3 linked regions of the Homo sapiens genome follow. The protein of the gene in region 1 purifies or fractionates together with the protein of each later gene. This does not show direct contact. Each region holds a gene or a part of one and is shown on either strand. Other genes may lie near its edges. The genes, in order: FAM9A, NAF1 and ACAD11.

Region 1 (3,753 bases):
AAGATGCCAGTGTCCCCTCCTATCCTTCCTGGCCCGTCCAGCCCCTCCCTGGGGCTGGCTGCAGAACTCACAGCTGCCTCGCACACCTGAATGGCCCCTGCAGGATCCTTGCGGTGTCCCTGGGACAGAGCTCAGCCCTGCCCCTGTGTGCCCCAGAGACCTGCGTGGCCCGGAGGACCACGGGTGCCACAGGACCTCCCCAGCCATCTCTGGGAGAATGTCAGGGGCTGCACTGCCACTTGCCTGCCTGGATGCCCAGGTGACCCCTCGTGACCCCAGGTGTCCTGTCCTGACCGGCGGCCGGGCTGGAGGGACCCACTCGAACTGTCCCCCACAACACCCCTGCTTGTCGCCTCCCCACACACTCCGCCCCTCCTCCTCCCCTTCCCCCATCCCCTCACCCCACGAACCCCACACCCCTCCCCTCCCCTGCCCCCATCCCTGGCCCCACACCCGGCCCCTGCCTATCTGCCACTCCCCCGACCCTCCCCCCTCTGCCACCACCCCTCCCTTGCTCCCCTCTCCACCACCTCCATTCCCCCAAGCCCCCCTCCCCTGCCCCACCCCTCCCCACTGCACACATCCACAAGTCCCCGGGACAATCCCGGGCCCTGGGGATCACTCAGGTGTCTCCAGCTCCCTCCCTGCCCTGGCCCATCCCAGCCCACCCTCAGGGCCTCGCCCTGACCCAGGCCCCAGGCAACGATGCCAGGGCCATTTCCTGCTTTGAAAACCTGGGGCCTCTTAGCACGTGCATGGTGGACTCCAAAGCCACAAAGGGGCCAGGGGTCTCGGGCTGCCCATGTGCCCCCCGCGCAGAGAGCAAACAGACCATCTCCTTGGGCGTGCACCTTCTTTCGTGGCCCCCTGGGCGGCCGTAACTTGAGCTTCCAACTGAGCTTTGGCAGCCTTCCTGCTGCGCTTCCTGCCCACGGGCTCCATGGTTGGCTGTCCTGGGAAGTTAGAGGCGATCCCTGAACCTGGTTGAGTGCAAAGTCAAACTAAGTAAGCTAAGGAAACAGGATATGTGAAAGGAGAGCCAACGGGATCTCGGATTCAAGAAAGGGTGGGGCTGGCCCACCCCGTGTATCCTGTGGGAGCAGGAGGGGTCGGAGAAGATGCCAGTGTCCCCTCCTATCCTTCGTGGCCCGTCCAGCCCGTCCCTGGGGCTGGCTGCAGAACTCACAGCTGCCTCGCACACCTGAATGGCCCCTGCAGGATCCTTGCGGTGTCCCTGGGACAGAGTTCAGCCCTGCCCCTGTGTGCCCCAGAGACCTGCGTGGCCCGGAGGACCACGGGTGTCACAGGACCTCCCCAGCCATCTCTGGGGGAATGTCAGGGGCTGCACTGCCACTTGCCTGCCTGGATGCCCAGGTGACCCCTCGTGACCCCAAGTGTCCTGTCCTGACGGGCGGCCGGGCTGGAGGGACCCACTCGAACTGTCCCCCACAACACCCCTGCTTGTCGCCTCCCCACACACTCCGCCCCTCCTCCTCCCCTTCCCCCATCCCCTCACCCCACGAACCCCACACCCCTCCCCTCCCCTGCCCCCATCCCTGGCCCCACACCCGGCCCCTGCCTGTCTGCCACTTCCCCGACCCTCCACCCTCTGCCACCACCCCTCCCTTGCTCCCCTCTCCACCCCCTCCATTCCCCCAAGCCCCCCTCCCCTGCCCCACCCCTACCCACTGCACACATGCACAAGTCCCGGGGACACTCCTGGGCCCTGGGGATCACTCAGGTGTCTCCAGCTCCCTCCCTGCCCTGGCCCATCCCAGCCCACCCTCAGGGCCTCGCCCTGACCCAGGCCCCAGGCAACGATGCCAGGGCCATTTCCTGCTTTGAAAACCTGGGGCCTCTTAGCACGTGCATGGTGGACTCCAAAGCCAAGAAGGGGCCAGGGGTCTCGGGCTGCCCGTGTGCAGGTCAGCCGGCCGCTCAGCGCTTCACACCCTGGTTGCGAGAGGGCAGCATGCTCGACTTCCTGCCTCCCTACCGCGAGCGCTTCACCTGCGCTTCACACCCTGGTTGCGAGAGGGCCGCATGCTCGACTTCCTGCCTCCCCACCGCGAGCGCTTCACCTGAGGGACCCCTGATGCCGCTTCCTCACAGAACCTGCAGGCACTGGCACCACGACGCTCTCTTAGAAAAATGGGTCCTCAGTTCTCGCGAGAGCAGCTGCCCTGGCTATCCACGCTCCTCTCTGATTGGTCAGCTAAGTGCGCATGCGCATGCGGGTGAAGGACCTTGGGGGCCACGACCCCTGCTGACACGCCTTCCCTCTTTCCGTAAGGGACCACCCATATTTGCTGTGGACTGGGGTGGGTGGTGGTTCTTTGGGGCCTCTGTCCCCAGAAGTTTTCAGCGCCTCCTCCTGGGGAGGGATGCAAGGACTCGGGATGGAAGCCAAGTGGACGGGGCCTAGGACCTCGCCCCCGAGCTCCTTCCAGCCACCCCTGCCCCTTTGGCTAGAATGGCCTTCGCCTTGCAGGTGGAGCCCAGGCTCCCTCCCATGCCCTGTGTGTTTCCACCATGTCCAGCTGCACCCTTTTTATCAATGGATTGTGCTTTTATGTTTTTTGCTTGCTTGTTTGTTTGTTTTGGAGACGGAGTCTCTCTCTGTCGCCCAGGCTGGAGTGCAGTGGCAAGATCTTGGCTCACTGCAACCTCCACCTCTCGGGTTCAAGCGATTCTCCCACCTCAGCCTCCCAAGGAGCTGGGATTACAGGTGCGTGCCACCATTCTCGGCTAATTTTTGTATTTTTAGTAGAGACGGGGTTTCGTCATGTTGGCCAGGCTGGTCTCGAAGTCCTGACATCAAAGTGATCCACCTGCCTCAGCCTCCCAAAGTGCTGGGATTACAGGCATGAGCCACTGAGCCCATACCCAAAGTCGTGTCTTTAAAGGCATCAACTGTATGATGTATAGTTGTTTCCAAGAAATGATGACTAAAAGGTACTGATTGAGAAACTTTTGTCATTTCTTTCTTCAAAAAAAGTCAACTAGTTTCCTGCTAGTTCTTGCCACTTAAGTTAGCCATAGAAATCCCAGGAGTGACCATCAGGTTGTCAAAGGCCTTTCTTCTTGTTGCTGTAAGGTTGACCTGCTGATAGTAACAGATACACCCCACTCTCGGTTATTTCAGGATCAAGTAGATCCATTGGCCATGGAGTGATGGTCTTTTCAAGTCAGGCTATTTTGAGAGGTAATAAAATATTCGTGTACTTTAATTTATTTCCTTTTGTACTTGCTTGTTTTAAAATACAGTTCTGCACATAAATATTTTTGACAAGATGAACAATATAGATCTATTTTGTCACATTACAAAACAAACAAATTATTAAGATAAGTCAACAATGACTGTAAGTAGAACATTGTATTTCGTTATTAATTTTCATTAGATTTCCAAAACATTTTTCTGTATAACATATTCAGATATTTTGAATTCAGCAATGCAGTCAGATGTTTCATGTAAGTGGCTGGGTGCAGTGGCTCATGCCTGTAATCTCAGCACCTTGGGAGGCTGAGACGGGCAGATCACTGGAGGCCAGGAGTTCGAGACCACCCTGGCCAACATGGTGAAACCCCGTCTCTACCAAAATTACAAAAAAAACTGGGTGGCACCACGCCTGTAATCCCAGATACTTGGGTGGCTGAGGCGCGAGAATCGTTTGAACCCAGGAGGCGGAGGTTGCAGTGAGCCAAGATCGCACCATGGCCCTCCAGCCTGGGTGACACAAGGAGACTCTGTCT
Region 2 (3,653 bases), on another chromosome or scaffold:
CCGGCCCACTTCTCCTCATACAGCTCCATAGGAGGCACCCATATCCCTTCTTGGTCATTCCACCCAACTTAGGGGATTCTGGAACTTCCATACTACCTGATTCAAGATAAAAGCAAAGGAAGTAATAGATTGTAAGGAGAGTATAAGAAACTGAATTTGGAAAAGTAGCACCTGAGACCTTTACTATGAGGTGGGCAAGCAGCTTTCTTTATATCTTTAAAACTAGTATATATTCTGTAGGTGTTCATATAAAAATTTAATCCAACTGATGCTTTATACTTGCCCTGTCATTGAGAAGTGGTTTTCTAGGTATCCTTTCACTTGGCTCTAGGTGATAATACTCACCATTTTTTACTCAAAGTCATTATATTTTTGCTACAAGATCTCCAAGGATTCCTATCACACACAGAGGTTAACACACACTGTAACAACAACGTGGTACAGCTATAATGTAGGATCTGCTGGGAAAAATAACTGACAAGCAGAGAAGATATAGAGTGCATGCAGTTCCCCAAATTCCATCCCAGCGTAGGCTGGGCTTAAATGTTCTGTGTGCACCATGGCAAAAGTTTCAGCGGCGTAGAAGGCCTGTTTGAGCCAGCAGGCTGGAGGTGCACAGACAATACAGCAAAAGGGAGAATGAGCTGTACTCTCCTCCCCCTCTCCACACACATACCATGTCACAAACTTACTAAGTTATCTAGAGGGGGCTAGGTAACTCCCAGTTTTTCTATTATCTAGGAGGGGACTAGGTAAATCCTAGTTTCTCTAAGTAACAATAAATATATCAAGGATCTCCAGGCCTAGGAACAATGCTGGCAGGCTGTGCCTGTGAAGGGCCAAGGTCTGCATGCTGCCACCTGGGAACAGCCTTCAAACAATGTCTCTCTAGGTGAGCCAGCTTTGGGCTAAACTGCCAAAGGAGAAAGGAAATGAGGAAATGAACCTTTACAACTATTCAACATTGTCTTTTATCAATCACTTTGTGCTTTTTTCAATTCCCATCAACAAAAATGAAGAAAATACAGACGAATAGAGTATTCTAATCTATTAGTTAGGCAAACTGATCATTTCAATCACTGTGTGTATTACTGTATCATAAGTTACCTTGAAATATGTCATGAGAACTGAGGGGGTGGGGAACAACACTCCATCAATATAATACAGAGTCCTCTAGAAAATCATCACATCCTACCAAACAAGACAGTAATATAATCGTTTAAAAAGGAATCAGTAAAAATTTCCTACCCACTGATATATGAGAAGGAAACAGATTTCACTAGTTCATCAAGGGAACTAGCAATTCTTAGGATTAAAGGGCAAAGGTAGGAATAAAAATCTGAGACTGTCCTCCCTTAATCAGTGGGGAAGGCAAAGGGAGGTGGAAGGGAAATGAACCTGGGCTGTAAACTCATCCATTTCAGCTTTGTGACTTTTTAGCAAGGTTTCTCAAGTTTTAAAATAGAGGTAATTTTACTTCCTTGCAGGGTTTCAGTGAACTTAAAAAGATAACATAAATATCACTGTAGCTGATTACTATCGTGTTACTGAAGAAAAGAGGGAAAAGATGTTCGATGGCTTGCTACTGAAGGTAAAACTAATTTAGTATTTAGATAAGACATGCTAATAATCTAAAAGGTACTCAGTTTCATATTCTGGTTATTGGTTTGTTTAACAAATACTTTCTAATCTCTACTCCCACTACTATTTTGGAGAATCATTTCAAGGCACTTAGATTTATAATCAAGTATTTTTTAAAAACTTGTCACAAAGTCTTTCAAAAGCATTTATAAAGCATTCTATGTAAAATTTAGAAATAGATTTAATTTTTGCCAACAGGCTTATGCCATATAACTAAAGTTAGAGGTGTAAATGTTATATTTTATCTGACTCCTTTCAAATCTAAATGACAGCTGAATATTAATATTAGTCACATTTACAGGTCTAGAAATTCAAATGTAGTGGGAAATACAAAAAAAATGTCTGTTTAGAGGTTTTAATTTAGCAAAGTGTTGAGTATTTTCAGATTAAAATTGTCTAAGTTAGGTACTAAGAAAAAAAGACAACTGTCATGAAAATCACAAATAGCTCCTTTCTTATTTGTTTGTATTCAACTCAATACACATTTACTTGGCACAAATAATTTACAAAGAACTGTACTAGATACAATGGGGAATATCAAGGTGAATAAAACTGTCCCTATTGCCAGGAAATAAATACTTACTTAGTATTTACATTCTTGATTTTAGAATGTTTATGTCTTCTGCCAACCAGTCAGAATTGCCTAGTTGCTGAGTAAAGTGCACAGTTTTCTACATTAAGGTGGACATGCAGGGTTGTTCCATTAGAAAGATGTTAAAAGGGACCAAATCTTATAGTAATTACTTGAATGCACATATTTGTAATTCCCCAGGATGTGCCTACAGTGACAATTCATTGCTGTCAGTGAAATATTTTTCCACTTGGAAAAGATTCCACACCGAGCTTCCACCTGAGGAAGTCAAAGTCTGAAAAGTCTGAGAGCCACTATTCAAAGGAGCTCACAAAACAAAAATGCTTAAGAGCTACTATACTATGGGAAGTCTTCTTCACTCAGCTGAGTATCTGGACGGTAGGAAACGATGTGTTATGCATTACGTAGACTCACTGCCTAGCAAGTTATCTGACAAACACTAGGAAAGAATTCTATATATGTGTATTTAATAACTCATGTGGCAAAGAGTAATAATCAGTATTAAACCAATTTACAGACAGATATGAAGTACTAAAGGAAATCAAGAACGTACTGAAATTAGAGAGCTCTAGATTGTCCATCAATTAAAATAAATAAACTCTTCTGAGAACTGATGGGGAAAGTCAGAAAAAAACAATAAATAAATAGAATAATTTGTAAGATTTGAAATGTTTTACAAACCTTTCCTGCTGCTTGTCGATCACTTTTAAAAATTACAGTCTCCTCATTAACTGGAGGTAGGTTAGTCATAGATTCAATTATTACTGAAAAATAAAATAGATTACTTCAAGATTTACTTATAAGAGAATGTAGAATTTTAATGAAAATCTAAGCTTTAATTCCAACATAATTTAAAAAAAAATTGAAGGTGGGATTATTACCTCATTAACCATTTTCTCTTCAGTAAACAAAGTCTACTTATTACCAAATAGCACTGGGAAATGTTTTTATACCTATTTTTAATACAAAAAGCTATAATTCTAAGGGAAAAAAATTAAAATGCAAATCCCACAGAAAATCTGAATCATCCATTAAAGATTCAACAAATTCAAGCTATGTACATATTCTCAAGTAATTTTTACCAAAAATAGTGTAATCACGTTTAGTTGTAAAACTGTTTTAGAAGAAATTAGTCTTCTTTCTCACTCTTAAAAATTCTTTTCTACAAAGCACTGTTTAGTTACTGGTATATGAAAAAGTTAAATAAAAGGCTTCACAAAAGCATCTTCCTATGAACAGAAGAAGTAAAAGTGCTAGAGCTCACAGTAATTTTTATCATTACATGAAAATTCCCTCCTCAAAAAGCAAAAACATAATCTCCAAATCTCCAGTTCTTTTAAATGACACAAATATTAAAGAACTGATCTACCATAACAAAGAGAAAACACACGCACACACAAACACACTCTCAATAAGTTTT
Region 3 (3,653 bases), on another chromosome or scaffold:
ACTGTAGTAATAAGGGAAATGCAAATTAAAAAAAAAAAAACAACACAATGAGAAACCATTTCACACCACCAAATTGACTTTTAAAAAATCTGACAATAGACTGGGTGCAGTGGCTCATGCCTGTAATCCCAGCACTTTGGGAGGCTGAAGCAGGTGGATCACCAGAGGTCGAGTTCGAGACCAGCCTGGCCAACATGGTGAAACCCCGTCTCTACTAAAAATACGAAATTAGCTGGGTGTGGTGGTGGGTACCTGTAAATCCCAGCTACTCGGGAGGCTGAGGCAGGAGAATTGCTTGAACCTGGGAGGCAGAGGCTTTAGTGAGCTGAGATCACAGCACTGCACTCCAGTCTGGGTGAGTCAGAGGCAGACTCCGTCTCAAAAAAAAAAAAAATCTGACAATATCAAGCATCAGGATATGGGGCAACAGGGACTCATATAGGGGTGTGAATTAGTATAGCTGCTATTGAAAAATAACTCAACATGATCTTGTAAAAATGAAGTTGGGAAGATACACATGACCTATGACCTAGCAGTTCTACTCATAGATACATACTCCTGAGACTTTTCTTGTACTACAGTATAAGGGGACAATCTACAAAGATGTTCATTGTACTGTTTGTAATAGCAAAAATCCAGGAAACAACACAATGTCTATAGATACAGAATGGATGAATAAATTGCAGTATATTCACATAATGGAGTAGCATACAACAGTGAAAATGATTCAGCTACAGCTGTACATAACACAGAATGAAAAACGTGAAGAAATTAACAGTATATTATATACAGAGATAAACTTCAAGGGAATGATAAATATAAAATTCAGAATGGTAGTCACTCAAGGGGAAGGACATACAGGGTTTCAAAGACAGTAATTTTCTCCGGGTAGTGAAAATGGTGTTTGTGGCATTACTATTCCTCATGCCTTACCAATTTCATAAATACTCTTTTTATCTGCAAGATTTACTTTTAAAATTTGCAAAAATTAAATCTTATTGGAAAGATAAAATATTTAGAATTAATCAATAATGAAAGTATTATATAGCTTGATACAACAAAACTTGTGATTTGCAGCTGAGTGCCTAATATGTATCTGGCACTGTATCAACCACTGAGGATGTAACAATAATCTTGCCTCCCTGGAACTTCCATTGTATTTGTAGAAGACAGACAGGAAAATCAGCTTCTGAACTTTACAATGTAGAAGTTGATATGTAACATGGAGGAAAAGAGAATAGGAAATGTTTGGGTGTGGGGCAGGAAGATTTCCTCGAGCACACGGCATTCAGCAAAGACTTGAAGGGGGATGAAAATGTGAGCCATGTAAATATCCAGGAAAAGAGTGTTCCAGACAGAGGGGACTGCTAATGCAAAGGCCCTGGAAGGGATGTGTGCCCAGTGTGTTGAGGAAACACAGCCCAAATGCCTGAAGTAGTGTAAGCAAGGGCAACAGGGACCCTGTCAGGCAATAAAGAGACTTTGGCTTTTACTTTGAATTGAGATGGAGAGAGACTTAAAACATGCTTGAGCAGAGGAGGGAAGTAATCTTTAAACAAACAAACAAACAACAACAACAAAAAAAACAGAATCTCTGCTTCTTGTGTTGAGAGTTGACTGAAGGGGCCAAGGGCAGAAGCAAGGACACCAATGTATTACAGTGTTCCAGCAGGGAGATATCAGTGGCATAGACCAGAGTGGGAGTGTAGAATGGGTAAGAAGTGGTCATAGTGTAAGTATATAGTCACATGCTGCATAATGACGTTTTGGTCAATGACGGGCTGCATATACGGCAGTGGTCCCATTAGATTATAATACTGTGTTTTTACTGTACCTTTTCTATGTTTAAATGTGTTTAGATACACAAATGCTTATCATTTTGTTACAATTAATTGCCTGCAGTATTCAGTACAGTCACATGCTGCACAGGTTTATAGCCTAGGAGCAGCAGGCTGTACCACAGAGCTCAGGTGTGTCCTATCGGGTTCAAATCAGCCTATTTATGCTAACTCCAACCAGCTGAGAAGTTTCACAACGAATCAGTGCCAATTAAATGCTTAGGAATTCACGATTTATTGTGTGGCTTCTACACAACAATCATGTAACTCTATCCAACACACATAGGCATTAATAGAGAAGGGAAACACAGCAAGTATTCTGGGAGACCAGCACACTGACTGAGAAAACCAGGTTTGGTTTTCCTCAGAATGCCCACTGACCTGGTGGTGGGTAGCTGCTCTTTTCCCAGAGGGCTTACCACAGCCAAAGGAAAGGAGGCCTCAGAGTTCTCATGGGCAGAGATTCTGCAGGCATCTCAGCCATGATTGGCTTTTACGGCTCTCCACAGACATCTCCATGGCCATTATCTTCAGCTGACTTTTGGCTTTACTTTCTTGTCAGGTGTCAGGGATGCCTGGCCACAGCAGATGCTATCTTATCACCTCAGTCCACCACACATATGCTTACTACTCTGAGTGGTCAGTGATTTCACTGTAAGCTGAGTCACTTGTCATAAGTGACTCCATTATGAGACATTTATGATCATAAAACATAATTATATATCAGTGCATAATAGGCTATACCATCTAGGTTTGTGTAAGTGCACTCTAGGATGTTTACACGTGACAAAAATCACTTAACAACATATTTTCCAGAACACATCCCTGTCATTAAGCAATGCATGACTGTATTTTGAAGGGTTTACTAACTGATTAAATGTGGGCTAGGAAAGGAAGAGACGAAGATTATTTCATTTCTGCCTTGGTAACTGAAAGAATAGGGTTATTGTGAACTGAAATGTAGGTGACTATAGAAAAGCAGATTTGAGGGGGAAATTTGAGGAACTCAGTTTTGGAGTGTTAAGTTTCAAGATGCCTTTTAGACATCCAAGTAGATATGTATAGTAAGCAGTTGGTTATGTCTTGAGGTCGGGGCAGAGATCTGGACTAGACATATAAATTTGAGAGCCATCGACAAAAAGAAGATATTTAAAGACATAAGATCGAAGGTCTTACTTAGAAAATAGTTCACATAAAAAGGAGGTTTGGAGACTGAGTCCAAGGCACCCCAATATTAAGAAGTTAGCAAATTAAGAGAAACCTACAAAGGAGTCTTAGAAGAAGTGGCCAAAGAGGTGGGGGAAAACCATGGTTTGTATTAGTGATCTTGAAAAAGTAGTATTAATGGAAAGAAGGGAATGAAAGCTTGATTGAAATGGGTTTAAGAAGATAGGAGGAGGACGTGTAATCTCTTGAGGAGTTTTTCTACGAAAGGAAATAGAAATGTTTTAAGTAGGGGGGAAGTGAGGTCAAGAGAAAGCTTTTTAAAAAATAACATCATATTTGTATGCTGATGACAGTAATCTAGAAGAGAAAATTTTGTGTAGGAGAGAGGCCTGGAAAGAAGTCCTTAAGAAGGCAGGACTCTAATATGCAAGAGAAGGGGTTGCCCTTAGATAGAAATGTGCACGTCCTTCTGCAGACTTTGGAGGGAAGACAGAATATATGTGTACAGATTATTGTATGCAGTAGATACAGTAGTGTAAGCTTGTGGAAGTTCTCATCTGATTGCTCCTATTTGCTCGTTGAAATAGGAACCTAGGTAATTAATTAGCTGAGAATGAAGATGGAGAAGAAAGTGTTTGAGGTTTGAGG

The links.
Region 2: the proteins of FAM9A (region 1) and NAF1 purify together in Homo sapiens (affinity purification with mass spectrometry; 3 studies listed by BioGRID and IntAct, with this or other methods). This does not show direct contact.
Region 3: the proteins of FAM9A (region 1) and ACAD11 purify together in Homo sapiens (affinity purification with mass spectrometry; 3 studies listed by BioGRID and IntAct, with this or other methods). This does not show direct contact.

Annotation. Positions count from the first base shown.
Region 1 is NC_000023.11:8,799,230-8,802,982, forward strand, and holds the start of FAM9A (protein FAM9A), read right to left. Parts: upstream 2,155-3,753; 5' UTR 2,082-2,154; exon of another isoform or gene 2,011-2,081; intron 981-2,010; 5' UTR 943-980; coding exon 852-942; intron 1-851.
Region 2 is NC_000004.12:163,142,868-163,146,520, forward strand, and holds part of NAF1 (H/ACA ribonucleoprotein complex non-core subunit NAF1), read right to left. Parts: intron 2,998-3,653; coding exon 2,915-2,997; intron 1-2,914. UniProt on the Homo sapiens protein: RNA-binding protein required for the maturation of box H/ACA snoRNPs complex and ribosome biogenesis.
Region 3 is NC_000003.12:132,653,237-132,656,889, reverse strand, and holds part of ACAD11 (acyl-CoA dehydrogenase family member 11), read left to right. Parts: intron 1-2,219; exon of another isoform or gene 2,220-2,460; intron 2,461-3,653. UniProt on the Homo sapiens protein: Acyl-CoA dehydrogenase, that exhibits maximal activity towards saturated C22-CoA.